6 separate regions of the Homo sapiens genome follow, and all the other regions are reported to be linked to region 2. The links are microRNA targets in miRTarBase. Many come from high-throughput screens and were not tested one by one. Region 2 holds a microRNA gene; each other region holds the end of a gene's coding sequence.

Region 1 (4,090 bases), not on the chromosome of region 2:
AAATCCTTTCGCGCACATGTGATGATGCACGCCGGAGGGAGACCGTATGAGTGCAAGCACTGTGGGAAAGCCTTCAGGTGTCAGAAATCCTTTCGAGTCCATATGATCATGCACGCCGGAGGGAGACCGTATGAGTGCAAGCAGTGTGGGAAAGCCTACTGCTGGGCAACATCCTTTCAACGACACGTGAGAATTCACAACGGGGAGAAACCCTATAAGTGTGGAAAATGCGGGAAAGCATTCGGTTGGCCCTCATCCTTACACAAACACGCGAGAACGCATGCTAAAAAGAAACCTGTGAGTGGGGGCAGCGTGGGAAAGTCTTCCGCGAGGCCTCGCCCCTCCACAGATGTCAAATCACAAACTAGAGAGAAAGTCTATAAATGTGAAACGTGTGGGAAAACGTATGGTTGGTCCTCATCTTTACACAAACATGAGAGAAAGCACACTGGGGAGAAACCTGTAAATGCAGCCAGTGTGGGAAAACCTTCAGGCGGGCTTTGCTCTTCCAAAAATGTAAGAACGCAGATTGGACAGAAGCCCAGTAAATGCGAAAAATGTGGGAAAGCTTTCAGTTGTCCCAAAGCCTTTCAAGGTCATGTGAGAAGTCACACAGGAAAGAAATCCTGTACATCTAAGTAATGGGGGAAAACCTGTGCAAATTAATTCACATACATGGTTCAGAAAATTCACAGCAGGAGGGCCGGGCGCAGTGGCTCACGCCTGTAATCCCAGCACTTTGGGAGGCCGAGGCAGGCGGATCACGAGGTCAGGAGATCAAGACCATCCTGGCTATGGTGAAACCCCGTCTCTACTAAAAAAAAAAAAAATACAAAAAATTAGCCGGGCGTGGTGGCGGGCACCTGTAGTCCCAGCTGCTCAGGAGGCTGAGGCAGGAGAACGGCGTGAACCCGGGAGGCGGAGCTTGCAGTGAGCCGAGATGGCACCACTGCACTCCAGCCTGGGTGACAGAGCGAGACTCCATCTCCAAAAAAAGAAAATTCATGGCAGGAGAAGAATCTCATGACGTTTATAAATATGGTATTGCCTTTATCAGGACCACATCCTAAAAGTGGGCCTCTAGCAAATGAATTTGCAGTTCTCTTGCAGGTAAAGTTGAGGGGAGAATCCTGTAAGTCCTCTCTCACCTATAGTACTGAAATTTTGATACATAATGGTTTTTTCTTATAAATTACTAATGTTTCTCTTTTCATTTAGAAGTGTATTGCACCCATGGGTGATCTGATGTATTTTAATATGCATTAACTTTAATTTTTATATATTTTTTTTGTTACTCCGTGTGAGGCCATTAGACCAATGAAATATGGGTGTTTGTTGACATTTTCTGACTGGCCCTGTGTGTTCCAAGCTGGATATTACTACCATGTTACTTTTATTCCACCTTTCCATTTTACAGGGAAAAACTATTTTTAATGTTAATACTTTCTACTTATACAGGCAAGTAATTCAGTGGCTTTATGCTATTGGTCAGAGAATCCTTCTTCATTTTGCTTGTGGACTAATAGGTAGTTGGTAGAAATACGTATGCATGCAAATTCTTGGAGGAGTGTAGTCTCGTGGGAACTATTTTTTTCATCTGTTGCTGTTTGCTCTTTGACCTGGCTTCTGGGTTGGAATTGGAAAATAGGTTTTTTTGGGTTTTTTTTCTTTTTCTTTTTTGAGACAGAGTCCTGTTATGTTGCCCAAGCTGGAGTGCAACGGCACGATCTCGGCTCACTGCAACTTCCGCCTCCCGGTTTCAAGCGATTCTCCTGCCTCAGCCTCCCAAGTAGCTGGGACTATAGGCATGCACCACCATGTCCAGCTAATTTTTGTATTTTTAGTAGAGACGGGGTTTCACCATGTTGGCCAGGGTGGTCTCAAACTCCTGAAATCTGCCCGCCTTGGCCTCCCAAAGTGCTGGGATTACAGGTGTGAGCCACTATGCCTGGCCATATTATCATTATCTTAATACCTCATTGTCTCAGTATTTCTTGTGCTTCTGTGTTCCTGCTTCCATGACAGATACAATGGTACAACCATAAAAACACAGGGGATTGCGGCTGGGCGCGGTGACTCACGCCTGTAATCCCAGCACTTTGGGAGGCTGAGGTGGGCGGATCACGAGGTCAGGAAATCGAGACCATCCTGGCTATCATGGTGAAACCCCGTCTCTACTAAAAATACAAAAAATTAGCCAGGTGTGGTGGCGGGCGCCTGTAGTCCCAGCTACTCGGGAGGCTGAGGCAGGAGGATGGCGTGAACCTGGGAGGCGAAGCTTGCAGTGAGCTGGAATCGTGCCACTGTACTCCAGCCTGGGCGAAAGAGCGAGACTCTGTCTCAAAAATAAATAAATAAAGAATAATTTTTTAAAAAAGCACAGGGGATTGTTTCCCTACTGCATCTACTGTGACCTAGTATTCTTCGTGAGATAAATCTTACCTTTCATGAGAAAATGAAAGACAATACTGGCTTATCAGGTAAACTCTGGAAATTTCCTGTCACATAGAGCTGAATACAATCTCTCAGTATGTGTTCAGTTATTATGTTTGATTATGTATTATTAAAACAAAAGTTTCTGTTTCTGAGAAATATCTATTTACTGTGTTTGTGTTTTTAAAGAAGTTGGATTCTATACAAATGGATAAAATGTTTCTTAGAAATAGCCTATTTAACTGAGTTTTTCAAATAAGTTGTATACTAACAAATGTCAATCTCTGTTTTTTATTTACTGGGAGAATGTATTAAAATATTGAAAATTGCCAAATCAACATGGTGACTTTAAAAATGATACTTCTGGGCCAGGCACAGTGGCTCACGCCTGTAATCCCAGCACTTTGGGGAGGCCAAGGCGGGCAGATCATGAGGTCAAGAGATCGAGACCATCCTGGCTAACACGGTGAAACCCCATCTCTACTAAAAATACAAAATATTAGTGGGGTGTGCTGGTAGGTGCCTGTAGTCCCAGCTACTCGGGAGGCTGAGGAAGGAGAATGGCTTGAACCTGGGAGGCGGAGCTTGCCAAGATTGCGACACTGCACTCCAGCCTGGGTGACAGAGCGAGACTCCGTCTCAAAAAAAAGAATTATACTTCTGAATTAATATTACCAGATGCATTCAGATTTAGACATTTTCTTTCTAGTACATTTGTTTCCTATACTGTTATAATTTTGTCTAAGAAATTCTTTTTTTTTTTTTTGAGACAGATTCTCGCTCTGTTACCCAGGCTGGAGTGCAGTGCCGTGATCTTGGCTCACTGCAACCCCCCCGCCAAGGTTCAAGTGATTCTCCTACCTCAGCCTCCTGAAGAGCTGGGATTACAGGCACCCGCCACCACACCCGGCTAATTTTTGTATTTTTAGTAGAGACGGGGTTTCACTATGCTGGCCAGGCTGGTCTCGATCTCCTGACCTTGTGATCTGCCCACCTCGGCCTCCCAAAGTGCTGGGGTTACAGGCGTGAGCCACCGCGCCCAGCCTAATAAATTCTTGTTTATTCATAATGACAAAAACTTACGTAACGGTTTTATAAATTTAAGTATTAAATAAGTCTAGCAAAAGACATAAAAAGATAACTAATAAAACAAGTTTAAACTTTATTGGAGCCCAGTAGCAATGGCTCACGCCTGTAATCCCAGGACCCACCGAGGCGGGTGGATCACCTGATGTGAGGAGTTCGAGACCACGCTGGCCAACATGGTGAACATGGTGAAACCTTGTCTCTACTAAAAATACAAAAAATTGGCCAGGCGTGGTGGCAGGCGCCTGTAATCCCAGCTACTTGGGAGGCTGAGGCAGGAGAATCGCTTGAACCCGGGAGGCAGAGGTTGCAGTGAGCCAAGATTGCGCCACTGCACTCCAGCCTGGGCGACAAGAGTAAGACTCCATCTCAAAAAAAAAAAAATTTTTTTTTTGGATAATATCAAGGCAGAATAAAGTATAGTATCAAACTTGACAAGGTAGATAATAGGGAATGCAGAATAAAGGATCGGGCTTCAGTAAGTGACAATCTCATCATGAATTCATTTATAGTTCCACCATGTAATATGTCTTAAATACTATTTCTTTTTTTTTAATACTATTTCAAGAAC
Region 2 (4,090 bases):
CCCACTCCACTGTCCCAGGACCAGCTGTACAAAAGCCACCCCCATCGTGGGGCAGGGGTAATCATACTTCTGACTTCCCAGCATGCTGCGCACAATTATTACTGTCTGCCTCATACCGCCAGTTGGCCAGGGTCAGCCCACGCTGCTGGCAAGGCCAGGTCTCTCTCTGCAGCCAAGGCAAGGATATCCGGGGTGGCCACCCTGGGGCAGGGACTGAGGTCTCTCAGCCTGGGGCTCAGGGCTTGTTCCCACCTCTTTTATTTTTATTTTTTTATTTTTTGAGAGAGTCTCGCACTGTCACCTAGGCTGGAGTGCAGTGGTGTGATCTTGGCTCACTGCAACCTCCACCTCCTGGGTTCAAGCAATTCTCCTGCCTCAGCCTCCCGAGTAGCTGGGATTACAGGTGCATGCCACCATGCCCAGCTAATTTTTGTATTTTTAGTAGAGACAGGTTTCACTATGTTGGCCAGGCCGGTCTCGAACTCCTGACCTCAGGTGATCCACCCGCCTCGGCCTCCCAAAGTACTGGGATTACAGGCGTGAACCACCACATCTGATCTTGTTCCCACCTCATTTCTGAGTGCCTCACGGGAGTGGCCACTGACTAGCTCAGCACTGACCCCACCTCGGTGCTCTCGCGTCAGGACGGAGGCAGGTGGAGGTTGAGGGGCTGAGAGAACTGATGGGACTCATCAGGCTGGGCCTTAACCCCTCTGGCTCTATTTACTCTTCTGTGAAATGGGGACAGTGACACCTGGCTGCATGGAGGGAGGGCTGAGAAAAAGTGGGGAAGCAGGGCAGGTATGTTTGTTTGATTGATGGATGGACTGATTGATTGATTGAGACAGGGTCTCGCTCTGTCACCCAGGCTGGAGTGCAGTGGCACAATCATAACTCCCTGTAGCCTCAACCTCCCGGGCTCAAGCCATCCTTTCACTTCAGCCTCCCAAGCAGCTGGGACTACAGATGCATCAGATGCATGCCACCACACCCAGCTACTTTTTGATTTTTTTTTTTTTTTTGTAGCGACAGGGTCAAACTATGTTGCCCAGTCTGGTCTCAAACTCTTGGGCTCAAGTGATCTTCCCACCTTGGCTTCCCAAAGTGCTGGGAGTATAGGTGTGAGCCGCCACCATGCCCGGCCTGAGCATGTTCTGTGAGGGGCTCACATCACCCCATCAAAGTGGGGACTCATGGGGAGAGGGGGTAGTTAGGAGCTTTGATAGAGGCGGCTCAGAGGGGCCTCCTCTCTTTAAGATATCGTACCACCTCCCCAGCAGCTAAAATAAATCCTCGTTCCCACTCCCCACCGAGTGCCTGGGGCTGTCACCAGGTGGTACCCCCTCCCCCACCAAGCTCCCTACAGACACAGAAAATCCAGGAGCCGTTTTCACGCTTTTAGACCGTGACAGGCCTAGGAGTTGAGTCAGAGGAGCCCTCCCTAGGGAAACTGAGGCAGAGCACTGCCAGGAGGAGCCCAGTTCCTCCTCCTGGGCAGGCTGCCAGGTTGGGAAGTGGCCCCAGGAGCTCCTGCCATTCAGTGTCCTGCCCTCTCTGCCCTGGTGCTCAGAGGATCAGGGTAGATGACAAAGGGTGGATGGAGAATTATCCAGCTCCTTTTCCGTGGCCAGAGACGAGCGTCACTGCCAGCCCCACCGAACCCCTGTCCTGCCCTCAGAGACCCCTGGCACCTGTCTGGTGCCTCTCTTGACCTCAGCTTGCCCATCTGTGTAATGAGGGCAGATCTTCTCCAGGCATCCGGCCAGCTCTGACCTGCTACCTTCCCAGAAGGCTGAAGGCTGGACCAGGAAGCTTCTCTAACAGAAGGGCTGGGAGGAGAGATGCCCGCATCCTCCTCTGGACCCTCCGTCTATGAGGGTAGGGCTGGGGAAAGGGAGATCAGGGCCAGGGTAGATGGGGGCACGCAGGTCAAGTCTACCCTGGAGGTGGCATTGAGATTGGCCCCAAAGCCAGTCGGGGGGCTGAGGGCCTGACCTCTGAGGCATGGTCAAACCAGCCACAGCTCCAAGCAAAACCTAGAGGGGATGGGCGAAGTGGGCCTTTCCTCCCCACGTCCTTCTACTTCTTCGTTCTTGGGAATTTTCACCCCCAGCTCTGCTCTTTATCCTGCTGCCCTCCCCTGGGATCAGACCCCACTCCCCCACACCTACAACTGGTTCCTGGCCCTACAATCCACCCTCTGCCCCCAACTTCCCCCAGGCACATCCCTTTGCCCGGGATGCTGATTCCATGAAGGTGACATTCCCTTCTTCCTCGATGCCACCTCCTTCCAGAAGCCTCCCTGCCCCCCCAAATCAGTATCTCGCACCTTGTTCTTCCACACGCCATTCACATTCCTATTGGAGCCATGGCTGAAAACTCTCAGGCCCTAAGGGACCTGAAAAGTCCCCCTGGCTTCAGCTGCCAGCCTCAGCTTGCAAACCTCCTGTGACAGTGAGCTCACTAGCTTCCCCAGACAGCTCTGCCCATCTCGGGCAGCCCCAACTGTTAGAGTCCTTCTCTTCCCTGTGGTTTGGTTCCAGGCCATAAAGAACCTGTGGGTGCCCTCTCCCTGGGGTACCCCTGCTATAGATTTGAAGGCGGCATCCACATCCTCCCTAGATTTTTCTTTTTAAGTATTCCTTCCCTTTCAGATCCTTCCCAGGGACCCCAAATTACAGCCCCTGCCCAAGAGTTGTTCCACTGTGCCTCTGTCTCCTGTCATACAGCACACAAACTGAATCTGCTGCTGACTGTGGTCTGGGCAATGCCAAAGATCTGGCCCATCCCCTCCCTCTTTCTATATGATCTACCTCTAGTAATACAGCCAGGAATCAGATAAGTGATCATGTAGCATTTCCTGTCAAGAAAAGCCCCAAGCCCTTCCCAACCACTGTCTGTGGAGTGGATTTGGGGTTCGAGTGAAGGACCTTCTTCCTGTTTCATTTCTTCATTTGTTCTGATGCTTATTTCAGTTTGTGGGATTCTGATGGCTCCTGGCTCTGTCGCCCCTGCACCCTCATCCACATCCAAGCTAGAGCCTGGTGGCAGCATTCTAGAGATGTCCTCCAGATTCACTCAGATAAGGAATCAGTTCTCATTGGACACGGAATAAACTGATAAGGACGCGGGATGGCAGAGCCCCACTGCCACCCTCACCTCCTCTGTTTCCCAGCCCAGACACACTCTTGACCAAAATGTAACTAGGTGATGTGGCTACCCTGGCATGCTGTCTTCCTGGTGTCTTGGGCTGGCCAGGGCGGGCACTGTATACATAAAGTGGCCAAGCATGATGGCTCACGCCGGTAATCTCAGCACTTTGGGAGGCCAAGGTGGGAGGATTACTTGAGTCCAGGAGTTTGAGACCAGCCAGGGCAACATAGCAAGACCCCATCTCTATCAAAAGCTACAAAAATTAGCTGGGCGTGGTGCCATGCATCTGTAATTGCAGCTACTCAGGAGGCTGAGGTGGGAGGATTGCTTGAGCCCTGGAGGTCGAGGCTGCAGTGAGCTATGATCGTGCCATTGCACTCCAGCTTAGGTGACAGAGCAAGATCCTGTCTCAAAAAAACAAAAGTGGACACACAGATTTCTGTGGAATAATTAGGGCCCAGCTCCCTTGGGGATCTACCAATGCTTTCTGAGTGGCATTCACAGCTCTGGAGAGGGGGCTGGATTGGAGTTGGGGACTTGGAACCCTTCGCTGTGCAGGTGGCAGCTGGAACTGTGGGGCACAAACTCAAAGGCCCAAGTGTCTTACGGACGGATGTGCCCAGATATCATACGGGCACCTTGCCTGCCTCCTGGCCAAAACCAGGCTCCACCTGTTTTGCCAGAGCCCCATCCTCTGAACTGCCTAGCGCAGAACCCCAAGCCAGAAACCTAGGACATCTGCCATCTTCCTCCTCTTCTCCCATCCAACCAACATCCAATTTGTCCTGGCACTTTTTTTTTTTTTTTTGAGGCAGAGTCTCGCTCTGTTGCCCAGGCTGGAGCGCAGTGGCGCAATCTCGGCTCACCACAACCTCCGCCTCCCAGGTTCAAGCGATTCTCCTGCCTCAGCCTCCCGAGTAGCTGGGATTACAGGCAC
Region 3 (4,090 bases), not on the chromosome of region 2:
TTTCCTCATGTCTGTAAATGTTGGACTTTAGACACAGGAATCAGTCACCCTGGAGTCATATAGTGCTTGTTTTTTTGTTTGTTTTTAATTCTATGCCCTGAAAACATCTAAATGTAAAAATGTAATCTATCAATGGAGGTAACTTGTTTTTTTCTCAATAAGGCTTAACTTTCTGAACAAATGGGACATTTATAGCAGCTTAGAAAAGTCTAGATATTGTCATTAATCATAAAACAACCAAAATAATATAAACAGTACTGAGAATAATTCCCATATCAGAATGGGGAAACAACTAAGGGGCTAGCAGGAATTGAAAGAATACCTTGTATTTGCAAGTTACTGCATACTATTTGGTACACTTTCCTTACAGAAGCCCTAACTCAGGTTTTGCTGTGGTTGGCTGGCTTATGGTAGTACTGTGGGGTGAAATTTGTGTTGACTATTTAATTTCTTTCCTTTTGATGGTATCACTCTGGAAAGCCTCGGCCTCCATGCTGTTCATTCTCCAGCTCCTATAAACTGAAACTATTGATTCTCTGAGGGTTAGAGACTAAGTGTCAAAGCTGGAGGCCAATATTTTATGTCAGAAATTCCACAGGGTATATTTGTTTTAAATTGTGCTTATTCCATCTTACAGTCCTTCCACATCCAAGATCTGTAGACTTCAAATTTATTCTCACTTTATAATTTAGGAACAATGAGTCCTTAGCCAACAAGAGAAGTACTAGTCTGCGTGTAGTAGTCACCGTACTTTGAACTTTCTTAACTTAGAAGTAATTAAAGAGTAGAAATTACACTCTTCCAATGTGTGTGTCACACTTTTTACAGATTGATTTTTCAGGACAACTTACTGCACCTAAATTCTGTATTGCTTTCCAAAGAGGAAAGAACTGAGATTATGAAGCCAATTGTTTAGCTTTCTGGGGCTTTAACTATAACATGGACTGGTCTTTGGAATTATATACAAACAAGAATTCAAGGATACCATCCCCAAATTTTCACTTTGACCATATCTACCATTCCAATAAAAAAGAATCCAGTGAACCTACACCTGGCATGGCAACATTCAAGAAGGAAAGGAAGGAAGGTAGTTGAAAGCATCTGTTTACTCCATCCAAATGTATTTGGATGCAGGTATTCTCAGCCTCGGTCCTTTACAATAAGAGGAAAACCACAGAGCATATTCAGCAATTAGGGGCTGAGGCCATCCAGATCTAACTGAAACATTTATAGACAAAAGGAAAATTTCAAAGGGAATAGGAACTAAAAGGTTAAGGAAAAACAAAAACAATAGACTGAATTTCCATGAGAAATAGTGACTTAAATTCACACAGTAAACATTTCATTGGTGTTTTGTTTTGTTTTGTGATTTATGATCTATAGATGCAACTTCTTAGATTCAAGATAGCAAGGATCTGAGATACATAATTTGTCAGACTAAAGGAGGTGGGCCAGAAATTATTAGATTCAACTTTCATTAAAAAAATCACTGATCTCTGCTTCACTTTCTTAAGCCTGAAACTTTTCCTACTTGATGTGTAACAAGTTTGTAAAGTTTTGTTCTTGCTTGGAAAGAAATCCACCAGTGTTCTGCACAGAACCTGACTGGCCTCGTCACATAGTATTACAACAAAACACTACACCCAATAAATGCATTTCTTTCAGGCAAAAACATTACAAGTGAAAATGTCAACAAAACCATTCAATCCTGTTAACCGTTCTTCAATCTGGAATAAGTAGAAATGTATGGAACCAGGAATTTTAAACAGTGTTTTTAATTGAAAATAAAGCTAAAGCATGCTTTTCAACAGTGCAAATTTCCATAATTTTGATTTACTGCTTCCATCATCACAACACAGTACACCAGCATGGCCCTTACCCAGGGCTAGACCCTAGCATTTGCATGTTGAACTACTTTGATTTTAAGTGCAAATATAGATAGTCACCTCTGATTGTCACTTGCAGTAGAAACTCTCCTGCTCTATACACAGGATGGTCTGAAAACACAAGTTTTAGAGAGATGCAGAAAAAGTATAAGGTCATAAAATCCAAGTGCCTGAGTTCTGGTACCAAAAAGCCCTGAAAAAACTGTTATTTTTCATTTGGGGTATTGCAACTCTGACCCCTCATTTTCTTTTTCTTGGTTGTATTTACTGATTTGTCACTATCAAGAGTTCGGCCATGAAATATTCTGCTATTACGAGAAATATTTCAGCCCGGGCATGGTGGATCACACCTTTAATCCCAGCACTTTGGGAGGCCGAGACAGGCGGATCACCTGAGGTCAGGAGTTCGGGACCAGCCTGGTCAACATGGTGAAACCCCGTCTCTACTAAAAATACAAAAATTAGCCGGACATGGTGGCACGCGCCCGTAATCCCAGCTACTCAGGAGGCTGAGGCAGCAGAATCGTTTGAACCCAGGAGGTGGAGGTTGCAGTGAGCCAAGATTGTGCCACTGCACTCCAGCCTGGGCGACACAGCGAGACTCTCTCCAAAAAAAAAAAAAAAAAAAAAAAGAAATATTTCAATTGTTTTGGGAGTTTGAAGAGTCATGTTCAGACCACAAGATAAGCAGGACAATAGTAAGAGTCACCTTATTTAAAACCTTTGGGTGAGAACACAAAACAGACTTTTCCTGTTGCAAAGGAGTGGCTTTAAAAGTAAAATCACACCCTTTACAAAAAAAATACAATTCCGTATTTATTTTACTCAGTATGTATGAGGCAGCTTTTACTAGCATTTAATCAGGACTCACACCCCAATCTTTCCACTAAAAAAAAAAAAAAAAAGTTAAGTGCAACTACTCTTGGAGAGGGAATAAGGGGAGTCAAAAGAAAAAGATACCCCACAAACAAGAGCTCCAGAAAATAACATTTTGGGCTCACAGAAACTTCTTGCTACCTCACCTCACCTCACTGTGTAACCATGTAACCTAACAAACTTTCACTGAATTAACAGTTACACTTTCAGCTCTGAAATCTAGTGCATAAACTTAATGGCTCATTGTAATATTTATTATTCAACCTTTTGACATTTATTTGTAGCAGTTGAATTGAGGTACCGGGTGCATTATTAGCATCGAAACAGTAAAGTGTTCCAGCTCTACCGTAATAACTGAGTTTTACTTGAGTCTTTAGCCTGAAGTAGTCTGTGGAATGTAAACCAACCCTTCTCCCACCCCGCCCCCACCCTACTCCAGAAAAAAAAAAAAAAACCCGCAACGGAAAAAAAGTAATCCGATTTCTGTCTTCAAAATGCGATAAACCAGGACTCCAAAGGGGGTGTAACACATTAATGGACTTGTACAAACCATCCTGTGCAGTTTACAACAAAAGGAAGGTAATATGGTTCAAGAAAATATCTTCCAAAACATTTTTATGAATTAAATTTCCTGAATTTGTGACTAGGTGGAAGAGGTATTGCAGAACCGCCCAGCTGCCATTTCCATATAGGATGGGCCTTGTGAGGAGTTTGAGAATCCTTAGTGGTGTTTAAGGAATACGCCGGCCACAAATCCCCATCTCTCCCAATAATGAGTGATGGTGGACAAGGAAAATTTGCCATGAAATGAAATGGCCTTTTCACTGCTGATGCTACATTGCTGGCTACCTTTTTGCGTCTGTTTATAACTGTAAAATCATCCAGTGTTCCTTCATTTGTCTCAGTTTTACCTGTAGGACGAGGGCTTCTAGCTGATTTCAAATTTGGTTTGACTGGAGGTGTCTGAAGGACAGGTCGCTTTCCCAGTACTAGTGTCCGGTAATTTTTTCTCACCCTGGCACCAAATTTATATTCCCCATCCTCAGGTTTTGGAGAACCTAAAGTGCATGAAAGGCCCTGACTTTGAGCCAGTGGATTTAAGGAAGGAGTTTCTTTTTCAGGGCATGCAAAACCTTCCTTGGCTGTGGTTAACAAGGCGTCCTCCTCTTTACTCTCAGTCACACTGTAAAACTCACCCTTTGTATCATTGCACTCGCACTTTAGCTTATTTGTAAAAAGGTGAGGTTCATATTCTTCATTAGCACTACTGTCTTCTACTTTGATTTTAATATTGTGCAGAAATGGCAATGTCTTGTCGCCTGTGTCAG
Region 4 (4,090 bases), not on the chromosome of region 2:
GCTAACATGGTGAAACCCCATCTCTACTAAAAATACAAAAAAATTAGCCAGGCATGGTGGTATGCGCCTGTAGTCCCAGCTACTCAGGAGGCTGAGGCAGGAGAATCACTTGAACCGGGGAGGCGGAGGTTGCGGTAAGCCAAGATTGCGCCATTGCACTCCAGCCTGGGCAACACAGCAAGACTCCGTCTCAAAAACACAAAAACGAACAAACAAACAAACAGAAATTAACTCATAATACATCAAAGACCTAAATGCAAGAGCTGAAACAATAAGACTCTTAGAAGAAAACATAGGGGGTAAGCCTCACGACATTAGATTTGCAATGATTTTTTGGATATGACATCTAAAGAAAACAAAAAATATCTATAAGTTGGACTACACCAAAATCTTAGACTTCTGCATATCAAAGGATACAATTAATAAAGTAAAAAGGTAACCCCTAGAATGGGAGAAAATATTTGCAAATCATATATCTGATAAGGGGTTAATATTCAGAATATATAAAGAACTTCCACAACTCAACAACAACAAAAAACTAATTTAAAAATGGTCAAAGGACTTAGACATTTTTCCACAGATGACATACAAATGGTCACAACTAAGAAGGAAAAGCCCAACGTGTGTTCTTCCAGCCTCTGCTTCTGTCATGTTTGTCAACACTCCATTGGCCAAAGAAAGTCACATGACCAAGCTCGTCTTCAAGGTTTGGAGAAATAAACTCCACCTCTTGATAGGAGGAGCTGCAAAGTCACATGGAAAAGACATATACATAGAGGGATAGAAGAAGTCATTGTGGCAACCATCTACCACTGCATCATTACTTATCAAGAATATGCAAATTAAACCTAAGAAACTGCTGCATACCCACTAATGTAGCTCAAATTAATTTGCGTGACAGTACCACATGTTGCCAAGGATGTGAAGCAATGAAACTTTCATTCATTGATGTACAAATTGAGGTGTAAATGGTTTCAACCACATTGAAAAACTGTCTGGCAAGATCTACTAAAGCTAAAGATAGGTCTCCTCCAAAATCCAGTAATTCCATTCCTACATTTATACTCAAGAGAAATGAATACCTATGTCCACAGTATGACTTAACAAGAACATTCACAGCAGCTTTATTCATAACAATAAAACCTGCAGGATTATTCACAATAGCCAAGATATGGAATCAACCTAACTGTCCATCGGTGGATGAATGGATAAAGAAAATGTGGTATATCTACACAATGGAATACTATTCAGCCTTGATGAGGAAGGAAATTCTGTCATTTGTGATAACATGGATGAACCTGGAGGACAGAACTCAAATGTTTGTAAACAGAATAGAATTTTTAAATTGTGGTATATTCAGACTATGGACTATTACACAGCAATTAAAAAGCATAAACTACTGATAATACAACATAGATAAATCTCAATGACACTATATTAAGTGAAGAAAACAGACACAAGAGGGCTGTTTATGGTTCCATTTACATGAACAGGAAAAACAAATCTATGGTGATAGACATCAGAATAGTGATAACCTTTGAGGATGAGGTGGGGCCCAAGGGAAATTTCTGGGACGATAAAATATTTTGATGGAGACCGTGGTGGGTATAGACATATACAAAATTCACCAAGGTGTACCCTAAGATTTATTAACGTTTATGTAAGTTATACCTAAGAGAACTTTAAAACCAAAAAAAAAAAAAAAAAAAAAAAAAGAACAAGTAAAAATGGAGACTAGTCCCCTGGGTCTGCCACTGTAGAGAGAGTCAGGCCTGTCACATGCCACCCAGATGACTTTGATAGCCCACCTTAACTTGCTGGGCCTCAGCTTCCTCATCTGGGAATTGGGGATAACAGTACATACCTCAAAGTGTCAGTGTGAGGACTAAATTAAAAGATGCAAAGCTTCAGGCAGTGGCTACTATCTATTAATAGTAAACTCTAAATAAGTATTTACTATCATTACAATGAATGGTTGAATGTTCAGTAATAGGGAAAAGGATGATCACTTTATAAGAATAAAAGTAACAATTTGTTGGAAATGTAAAAAATGTCAGTATCTATATTTAATTTCATTGCTTCAAAACATATATATGTATGTATATACATAAATTTAAAAACTGACAGAATGACAAAGATTTTTCAGCAATACATAATCATGGTGGGAGAGTTTAACATACCTCTCTCAATAAATGCTAGATCACAGATCAACATTTATAAATGTGTAGATGGTTTTTAAACACATTTGCTTGATCTAGCAGACATTTGTAGAATACAATACATTGATTTCAACCATCCATGAAGCATTTATAAAAACTGACATATACTAAGTGCATCAGTTAGGAATTATATTCAGGTGAAATAAACCTCCCACCAAAAACAAAAACAAACAAAAGAAAACTGTACCAGTAAGAAGTGCATATTTTTCATGTATGGGACATCCAGAAATAAATAGTCCAGGGCTGCTGCAATCACATAAATATGCCAATTCTATTAAATCTATCCTAAATATTTTTTAGATTACAGAAGCAAGATGGTTATGACTTCCGGCCACCCTCTTCTTAGCTTGCGGCTTTTACCCTTATGGTCACAGGAGGGCTCCTCTAGGTCTAGAAATCATGTCTACTTGTCCAAAAGGCAAGAAGTGGAGAGATGTGGCTACATGAAACCATCCCTGAACACAATATCTTCCCCAGAGTCACATCCAGTGACTTCTCATATTCATACTAGCCAGGACCGGAGGAAATGGCCTGCCCTTGCTTGCAAGAAGGGCTGGGAGATGGAAGCTTTTTTTTATTATTATTATTTTTGAGACAGAGTTTCACTCTGTTGCCCAGGCTGGAGTGCAGTGGCGCAATCTCGGCTCACTGCAACCTCTGCCTCCTGGGTTCAAAGAATTCTCCTGCCTCAGCCTCCCAAGTAGCTGGGATTACAGGTGCATGCCACCAAACTTGGCTAATTTTTATATTTTTAGTAGAGAGGGGATTTCACCATGTTGGCCAGGCTGATCTCGAACTCCTGACCTCAGGTGATCCCCCAGCCTCAGCCTCCCAAAGTGCTGGGATTAGAGGCATGAGCCACCGTGCCCAGCCGGGAGATGGAAGCTTTTTAATAGTGCACACTGCCAATCTGAACAGAAAACCCAGGTTCTTTTCTAAGGAGGAAGGGGTAATTTGGGTTGGCAGCTAGAAGAATAAGCCACACCAGACCTAATAGCAAATCTCAGCAAATACCTATGACTCAGTAACAAAGAGGCCACATACTCTTCTCACCATGTAATTAAATTAGAAACCAACAACAAAAAGGCAACTAAGAAATAGCCATATAACATGCAGGAACCTTCCAGAGAGATAGAAACATTCTATATCTGGAATGGGGTGGTGGTTACATGCATGTATGCATCTGTCAAACTCATCCAACTGTACACTTCAGATGTATGCATTTCACTATAAGTCATTATACCTCTATGAAAATATATCCACATATTAGTTTTGAAAAATCTAATTCCAAATAATAGATGGGTCAAAGAATAAACGATAATGGAGGTTAAGACAATACTTACAATTAAACCAAAATGAAAATATTATACATTGAAACACAGGATGCAGCTAAAGGAGTATTACGAGGGAAAGTCATAGCCCCATGTGTTTATATTTTTACAAAATGGAAGTTAATTAGCAAGGGGCCCACAGTATGGATGAGACATGGATAAAGGCAGGCTGCCATTCCTAATGGTCTCTCTTCCCACATGGGTTCTTTTGTGTACAGTGAGTGAGGAGCTGTGCCTGAAGGCTTTCTCACACTGATTACATTGATAGGGTCTCCCGGCACTGTGTGTTCTCACATGTACAATAAGATGTGAAGACTGACCAAAGGCTCGCCCGCATTCCTGGCATGCATAGGGCTTCTTGCCACTGTGAGTCCTTGCATGTTTCCTGAGGGATGAGGGCTCACTGAAGGCTCGCCCACATTCCTGGCACACATAGGGCTTCTCTCCAGTGTGAGTTCGCATGTGACTCTTCAGGGTTGAAAGACGACTCAAGACCTGACCGCAAGTCGCGCACTCATACAGTTTCTCCCCTGTGTGTAT
Region 5 (4,090 bases), not on the chromosome of region 2:
TTTCTACAAGGTGCAAATTACCCTTTATAGGTTCTGATTTATATTTCATGATAAGGAAGGTGTCCTTAAAACAGGTAGTTGAACATTTTTGCTTTGTCAGCTAAATTTTTCCAGCTCTTACCAAAACTGAAAAGATCTGAGGTTGCTTCTAATAATGTTATACTTTTGGAAAACCAAGTAGCAGTCACTAAATGAAAAATTCATTCATTAAGGTGTATTTTTTTTGCTTTAATCATGGTATTTAATTACCACATAGAAGAACTATACAATCTCATGCTAAGAAAAGCAAGCATTTTCCATCCCTGTTTAAAAAAGAGTGCCAAAAATGTCCACAGAGGTGACTCCTGCATAGGGGAAAGGAGGATTAGATGAGGGACTGACAAACTATAGCCTGCCAGGGAAATCCTGCTCACTGCCTGCTTTTGTACAGCACTGGAGCTTACAATTACATTTTGAAATGTTTTCGGGAAAAAAACTGAAGATTATTTTGTGACATGTCAAAATCATGCGAAATTTGAATTTCAGTGCATATAAAGAAGGTTTTGGCCAGGCGTGGTGGCTCATGCCTATAATCCCAGCACTTTGGGAGGCGGAGGGGGCGATTCACGAGGTCAGGAGATGGAGACCATCCTAGCTAACGCGGTGAAACCCCGTCTCTACTAAAAATACAAAAAATTAGCCGGGCGTGGTGGCGGGTGCCTGTGGTCCCAGCTACTCAGGAGGCTGAGTGAGGCAGGAGAATGAGGAGAATGGCGTGAACCCGGGAGGCGGAGCTTGCAGTGAGCCGAGATCGCACCACTGCACTCCAGCCTGGACGACAGAGTGAGACTCCATCTCAAAAAAAAAAAAAAAAAAAAAAAAAAGGTCTTATGAGCATACAGACTTGCTCATTTGTTTATGTGTATCTATGTATGGCTGCTTTTGTGCTGCTACTGCAGAGGTGAATGGCTGCTAGATACCATATGGCTGGCAAAACCTAAAATATTTACTCTCAGGATCTTTTTTTCTTATTTTTTTGGAGACAGGTTTTCACTCTGTCACCCAGGCTGGAATGTAGTAGTGAAATCATAGCTCACTGCTGCCTCCAACTCCTGAGCTTGCAAGTGAACCTCATGCCTCAACCTCCCAAATCACTGATACTACCAAGTACGCCACCACGCCCAGCTAATTTTTATTTATTTTTTCTTTTTTTGTAGAGATGGGGTCTCGCTATGTTGCCCAGGCTTGACTGGAACTCCTGGTCTCCAGCGATCTTCCCGCCTTGGCCTCCCAAATTGCTGCCATCACAGGGGTGAGCCACTGAGCCCAGCCAGACTCTGGATTTTTACTGAAAAAAAAAGCTTGCCAATCTTTAGGCTGGGTGACATCTGAGATCCCTTTAAATTCCAAAGTTCTAGGAATTCCACTTCCAGAGGTAAGCAGGAATCCACCATCAAAGACAATACAGGGAACACCCATTAGCCTCATAATATAATGATTCCAAAAGAACTGTTTCTTTTGTGTTGTCAACATGTCAACCTGTAAAATAATACTCACTGACTCAGAACATTCACGTAAGTTTCCCAGATATTACTTTGAAAAATAGGCTCTTGGTTCTAGAAAGCAACATTCATAATTTTTAGAAATTTTATTCTATTAACAGGGTTGACTAGACCATCTGAAAAATTACCAAGTACAATGAAAATGAAAAAAGAAACCCAACTCCGCTAGGAATTCACATCATAAAATATTTATTAATAAGTAAAATGATTTTCCCCTGCCTTTGGTTATTAAAAAATGAGTATCATTGATGATACCAATTGCCAACACTGGTTTTACATTATTCAGTCATGAAACAGAATAGAAAGATGATCGATAGATATCTATAGACATAAATGTGTAGAAGACCATACCATACAGCGATTTGTTTAATTACAAAATACTGGTTGTGCTAGCAGTTGGAAATGTACTTGCACATCCTTAAAGTTATCTTTTTTTATATAAGTAAAGAACACACAAATAAATTCACTTGAATTTGATAATTTGGAACATTGGCAATGAATACAGTGCCTGTTGAGGCCTGAAAGAGAGAGGAAATCAAGAACAGTGTGGGAGAAGAAAGGCAATCCTTCGTTGAAAAGCTTTTCTCTTAACAATCCTTAGTGCCTGAAAAATAAGCCATTTTGATAACAAGAGTATAAAAAGCCTTATGATCTGCAAAGTAAATCGTATCTGGTTTAAATTTCATCCCAAGTCTCAGGTTATGGCTGAGGAGCTATACTAAGTATCTTTGTAACACATTTCTTTGAATTTTTATAACTAAGACAAGAAAATTTTTTTATCAGATCTAGGCAGAAATACTGATCTTCATTTACAAGTATAGTAATTACTTGCACTCAGGACTATATAGACATGGGGCTCTGAAAACCAAACAGAAGGAAACGCCAAACCATAACCACAAGGCAAAATTAAAAGTAACTCAGAGAAGCAGCGGGTGATAGTTTATGATTTCAATATAAAAAAGAATGCATTACCTCTCAGATGTCACCTTAAAGCCAGAAAATTAAGATACAATCAAGAAGGGGATGAATGGTTTTATGACTATACCACCTACTACTTCAAGATTAAAATCATCCCAGAGTTCTGAAATGTCTTCATTAGTTAAGTAACTATACAATTTATTTCAGTCTCTTTTTAATGTAGAAAATCACTTTGTAATAAGATCTCTACATAAGGTAAAAAAGCACAAAATAGGCCCCCAAAAGCACAAAAATAGACAAAATATATATATCTTTTTACAATGAAATTAAGGTGTGCCTGTGGAATACTGAGACTGATGACTGATCTCACAGAGTTCAAACAGGTTTCCTTTTAGAATAGTCCTGTTATTTGCGTCTTCCCCTTAACCTTGGATGCATTAGAAAAAAAAAAAGGCTCAGGCTGGGGGCGGTGGCTCACGCCTGTAATCCCAGCACTTTGGGAGGCTGAGACAGGCAGATTGCTTGAGGTCAGGAGAGTGAGACCAGCCCAGCCAACATGGTGAAACCCCATCTCTACAAAAAATACAAAAAATTAGCCATGGGGGCAGGCACCTGTAATCCCAGCCACGTGGGAGGCTGAGGCAGGAGTGTTGCCTGAATCCAGGAGGCTGAAGTTGCAGTGAGCCGAGATCGCACCACTGCACTCCAGCCTGGGCAACAGAGCAAGACCCTGTCTGATTAAAAAAAAAAAAAAAAAAAAAAAAAGTCCCAGGTAAAAGGGAGATAACAGGCATTTTGATCCTGTGCAGTCAACAACAAAAAAGAAATAATAATAACAACATAATAAAAATCCTTAATTTATCAGTTTATAAAATTCTTTCGTCAACCATATCTCAAGGGCACTTCGGACTCAAGCATTTGTTATACACCCATCAGCAACATCACAGTCATCTCCAGCTGAGGCCGGTTTTCCATCATAAATCAATGATACCCTGGATGAAACATATCCAGAAATGCTAATTCGGAGATGTTTTCATACAGTCTGGGGGCAAATGAAGCCATCCAAAGGAATCGTGCCATAAATACCACCGACATGTGCGGACTTCCACCTCGAGAATCCACCCCTGCCTTCGTCTCCCTTCAGTAAAGGAACCCACCAGTGACTCTCGGTTATACAGTCACCGCTGGGTACATCTTCTGTTCACTGTTGGTGTGAGGGAAGGGGGACTGAATCTGCCTGTAGCCAGGCTGCAGGCCGTCCATGAAAGGTGGCACAGCTGTCATGGGCACAGAGTCGTGCTGCACCGTGTACCCCACGTATGGGGGATGCAGATACTGCCCTTGATGTGGCACAATCTGGGTGGCCTGCTGACAGTTCAGCACAGAGAAATTCGTGGGCATGTTGACATACACGTTGTTCATGGTCCCTTCCGGCAAGCAACAGTTGGTCTGTGACCTTGTTGGGGGCGCCCGGGCCCCTGAGTTGGCGCTGGAGCTGGAACTGGCAGCTGTGCTGGACTGGCGTGAGGACGACCCCCGGGAGGTGCTGGCACTGGGGATCATGGGGATGGTCTCCATCAAGCGGTTACCCCCTGGGGCTCGGCTCTGCTGGGGATCCTGCTTAGGCCGGA
Region 6 (4,090 bases), not on the chromosome of region 2:
TTGACATACTACCCATGGCATCACACAGGTCCTAACTTTTAGAAGTCTGGCACCAAAGGGAGAAGAGTTTAGAAAGCACTAGAGCAGGGGGATCAGAGGAAACCTGAAAGGAGGAAACATTATATGGCATTCCATAAACAACATACCCCAATATCGCTGGGGTTCCTTATTGCTTGTGTGTTATTTGCTGTGGTTCCAGTTGGATTTGAAGCTCAGAAGATACTGCAAGTTCCTGCCATGGAAAAAGAAACCAAACGATCTTCAACTCTCCCAGCCAAGTTCCAGAACCCAGTTGAGCCAATTGAGCCTGTCTGGTTCTCACTGGCCAGGAAGAAAGCCAAAGCATGGAGCCACATGGCAGAAATCACGCAATAAAGAGCTCTTGTGTGGAGCATCAGCATTTATTTTATTTAGTTTTTTTTTTTTTTTTTTTTTTTGAGACAGAGTCTCGCTCTGTTACCCAGATTGGAGTGCAGTGGCGCGATCTCCGCTCACTGCAAGCTCCGCCTCCCGGGTTCACGCCACTCTCCCGCCTCAGTCTCCCGACTAGCTGGGACTACAGGCGCCCGCCATCACGCCCGGCTAATTTTGTTTTCGTATTTTTAGTAGAGACGGGGTTTCACCATGTTGGCCAGGATGGTCTTGATCTCCTGACCTCGTGATCCGCCCGCCTCAGCCTCCCAAAAGCTGGGATTACAGGCGTGAGCCACCGCGCCCGGCCAAGCATCAGCGTTTTAAATGATAATTGCTAATAGCTGTATTAATTCTATGTAGTGATCTTTTTACTGTGACCACTTGTATTAAGCAAAATAAGTATTAAGCAAACTAAGAATTTATTAAGCAAAATAAGAATTTATTAAGCAAAATAGCCTTAGAAATGCAAATTAAAACATAATTATTTGAATGAAATAAATGCCATGAATGCTTAACCTTCCACGTAGTCACTGCCAGCACCCAGAAACCCAGCATTTCCTCTATTAAAACTATCGAAAACATTTGCACTGCTGTAAAATTGCAAAATCTTTAACTTTGGACAATGTGCTTTAGAAGGGAGAAAGCAAAAACATTTTGTTGGAGCAACTAGAAAATTGTCATTTCCCTCAACCAAATAAAGTAATTCTAATGGAAACATTCAGATGATTTGACCTAAAGATTGGCCTTTAGGTTTTATGAGCCTAGATAGATGCCGCAATTATTTGGTTGTTGCTCTAAGCTTTGCAAGGGATCCTAAAAGAGGCGGTGGAAGTGAAAATTCTGGGTCTCCAAGAAAATTTCTGCACAGCCAGTTCTCCAATCAGCCTATCACCCCTTGAAACATCTTCCCTGTGTCCCTGGGGGCCCCTGATGCTTTCTCCTTGGGTGATAGTAACATGCAGAGCACTTACACAAAGCTCCCTCTTTGGACATACCCCACGTCGACCTGTCACAGGCCTGGCTGTAGCGAGCACCTCCCTATGACGCAGAATGCTTCTTGGGAATTATCTTACTCCTCTGGAGGGTTAGTCCATCAATGTTTTGCTTCTTGTCCCAATACTACTGTGACCCTCTCTGATCGCACAGAAATCACTGCCTATCACATATATCCTGTTAAGCACTGAAGACCCTATTGAAATTAGAGTTCTACAGATGCCAAAAGCTGTACTTTCCATCAGGCAGATGGCAAGCTTACTGCCTTGATGCACATCTGGAGCCACTGGAGCTCCTTCCTCTCTGGTTCCAGCATTAAGGTGGAGAACTCCATGTAGCTTCTTGTCCTTTCCCCTCAGCTGTCTTTGCTTCACAAGGTTTTAGCCCAAAGCAAGAGTGCAATCCCAAAGCCACAGAGAAATGAACTTTCCGCTACCTGGAAGCTTTAAGTGAGTAAATCAGCTTTTCCCCTCTCATTCCTAGAGGCACACACCTCAAAAGTTACTAGGCTGGAGAGACCCTACCTTCCAGTGACCCACTCATCCCCCAGCCACGGAGAAGAGGGAAGACCAAAAAGGGAGAGTGAGAAAGAGGATGAGAGGGATGGTCAGCTGTGAGGGGAGGGGGCAAGTGGCCCAGCAAATGTTGATGCCTCCCTTCCCATCTTGCCACACGGTCTTTTTCTTTTGTAGCACAGCCTCCATTAATAACTCCTCGGCTGAGGATGAAGATGTAGGCACCTTTACCCCCAGAGCCAGTTCCTTAATTGGCTGGCTTTCTGAGATGCAGACCACCCTAGAATCTCATCTAGGTTCACTAGAAGTTAGTTAAATCTTCCTTTCTCTGTCTTTCTCTTCATTCCATCCCCCAAACCCACCAAACACTAAGGGAGAGCTCCCTTTGGATGTCTGGGCAGTAAACCTAGCTCATTTTTCTAGGAGACCCAGAAGTGACTTCTGAGTAGTTATCACTGTGTCTGCCTCTGTTACACTGTGCTGCTTTGCTTAAACAGAAATGCAGGCCTGGACATCTGACTGTGCCTTTATATTCTGAGTGGGGTGCTGCCCCATGCAAAAAAATCCAGAGAGGTAGTGAGGTGTCAGAGCTAAACACTTGGTGCTGGGTTTTGTTGATGCTGGTATAATGTGACACAGTACAATTACATGCTAAATTTTGCATTTTCTCTATATAACATCTATTTTTCCTGATACTGTGCCTTTGCCATTTTGATAATGCTATTTTGATTGAGTGAATTTTATTTCCTTTGTATTCCCATAGTGAACAATATATTAAGGTAGATGCCCTTTATCTGGGTACTCCTGGTAGATTAGCTGTTACACCTCCCTTCCCTTTTTTACAGTGAACCTGTATTCAGTTATTGTCACTCTGAGAACTCTCCAATAACAATTTCTTTTCCACAGTTAACAACACAGCTGTTACACCTCCCTTCCTTTTTTTCACAGTGAACCTGTATTCAGCTATTCTCACTCTGAGAACTCTCCAATAACAATTTCTTTTCCACAGTTAACAACAAAGTTCTGTTTTTAAATGAAGAGATTAAGTTCTTTTTAAATGCCTAAAGGCATATTCTGACAACTTTTCTACTTCTTTAACTTTTTTGATTTAAGATATATGCAAAGCAAATAAATTCAATAAAGCCTATTCTGTAGTCCATCTCTGTCTGTGACATGGGGCGGGAAATCAAATAGGATATTGACAACTCAGAGCTGAAGGTTGTCAGAGAAGTAAAACGTTCTTTTTTTTTGAGACGGAGTCTCACTCTGTCGCCCAGGCTGGAGTGCAGTGGCGCGATCTCGGCTTACTGCAAGCTCCAACTCGCAGGTTCACGCCTTTCTCCTGCCTCAGCCTCCCGAGTAGCTGGGACTACAGGCGCCCGCCACCAAGCCCGGTTAATTTTTTTTGTAGTTTTAGTAGAGATGGGGTTTCACCGTGTTAGCCAGGATGGTCTCAATCTCCTGACCTTGTGATCTGCTCGTCTAACGGCCTCCCAAAGTGCTGGGATTACAGGCGTGAGCCACTGCGCCCGGCCAAAGTAAAATGTTCTTAAAAGGTGGTGCTGAGAATAAGGGGCGTCCACGCAGGTGTGCCTGACCAAGCTGATGGCTTTCAGGTGAGCATTGATATTTGGTATGGGGGAGAAGGGCCACTGAAGAGGTTTTACGTTTGGACACCTGGAGAATAAAGAGGGGGTGTGGTTGGGGGACGAGCAGAAGAGACAAGGTGATTGGTGGTTGCACTGTAGCCTGGGTCAGGGACAAAGTCCAAGTCCGATAGCAAGATGGGCTACTGCAACAAGCGCTTTTCAGAAGCAAGGGGCCCTACTGTGCTCAGGTAACAAAGTGGCATGGAGGGAGGAAGGGAAAGGGGTTATAGGCCAGATAATGAGCCTGGCTCACCTGTAACATTTTCAGGGTTTAGAACAAGAGTTCAACTTGGGATCCACATACCATATGTCTAAATATTTGAAATGTTTAAATAAACGAATACAGCATGTTTTATTTAATGGTTTATCTCCTTCCATGACAAATGTACCTTCATAATGACCTCAAAGGCCAGGTTGGGTTCTAGAATTCTCAGACTCCTGTAAGTCCTGCCCCAGTGGTGTGGGAAGAACTGCTCCCCTTCCTCCTCCTGCTTTAGAAATATTTCAGACCTACACAAA

Evidence for each region. The annotated mature microRNA hsa-miR-4284 reads GGGCUCACAUCACCCCAU and lies in region 2 at 1,162-1,179, shown strand. An mRNA with a match to its seed (bases 2 to 7 or 8) in the 3' UTR can be bound and repressed. Matches are read on the target gene's strand: a 7mer-m8 pairs with bases 2 to 8, a 7mer-A1 pairs with bases 2 to 7 and ends in A, and an 8mer does both.
Region 1: the mRNA of ZNF556 is a reported target of hsa-miR-4284. Seed matches in the 3' UTR shown: 7mer-m8 at 931-937, 8mer at 1,935-1,942, 8mer at 3,459-3,466 and 8mer at 3,832-3,839.
Region 3: miRTarBase lists SKIDA1 as a target of hsa-miR-4284. Seed matches in the 3' UTR shown: 7mer-A1 at 2,999-3,005 and 7mer-m8 at 2,881-2,887.
Region 4: the mRNA of ZNF333 is a reported target of hsa-miR-4284. Seed matches in the 3' UTR shown: 7mer-m8 at 2,862-2,868.
Region 5: the mRNA of SHISA2 is a reported target of hsa-miR-4284. Seed matches in the 3' UTR shown: 8mer at 2,930-2,937.
Region 6: the mRNA of KIAA1210 is a reported target of hsa-miR-4284. Seed matches in the 3' UTR shown: 8mer at 702-709.

What each region holds. Positions count from the first base shown.
Region 1 is chr19:2,877,688-2,881,777 of GRCh38, forward strand. ZNF556 (zinc finger protein 556) reads left to right here. Exons shown (of 4, transcript NM_024967.3): 4 at 1-4,090. The coding sequence ends at 642. Among named protein-coding and RNA genes, the nearest start is that of ZNF556, 12 kb to the left of the region's middle.
Region 2 is chr7:73,710,166-73,714,255 of GRCh38, forward strand. It overlaps MIR4284 (microRNA 4284), which reads left to right and starts at 1,152; the gene lies at 1,152-1,232. All of the region lies in intron 1 of STX1A (syntaxin 1A), which reads right to left.
Region 3 is chr10:21,511,719-21,515,808 of GRCh38, forward strand. It overlaps SKIDA1 (SKI/DACH domain containing 1), which reads right to left. Exons shown (of 4, transcript NM_207371.4): 4 at 1,757-4,090. The coding sequence ends at 3,378. Among named protein-coding and RNA genes, the nearest start is that of SKIDA1, 12 kb to the right of the region's middle.
Region 4 is chr19:14,718,906-14,722,995 of GRCh38, reverse strand. ZNF333 (zinc finger protein 333) reads right to left here. Exons shown (of 12, transcript NM_032433.4): 12 at 1,097-4,090. The coding sequence ends at 3,671. Among named protein-coding and RNA genes, the nearest start is that of ZNF333, 31 kb to the right of the region's middle.
Region 5 is chr13:26,042,884-26,046,973 of GRCh38, forward strand. It overlaps SHISA2 (shisa family member 2), which reads right to left. Exons shown (of 2, transcript NM_001007538.2): 2 at 1,714-4,090. The coding sequence ends at 3,630. Among named protein-coding and RNA genes, the nearest start is that of SHISA2, 7.1 kb to the right of the region's middle.
Region 6 is chrX:119,077,614-119,081,703 of GRCh38, reverse strand. It overlaps KIAA1210, which reads left to right. Exons shown (of 12, transcript NM_001394962.1): 12 at 200-3,069. The coding sequence ends at 375. Among named protein-coding and RNA genes, the nearest start is that of CT47C1, 6.7 kb to the right of the region's middle.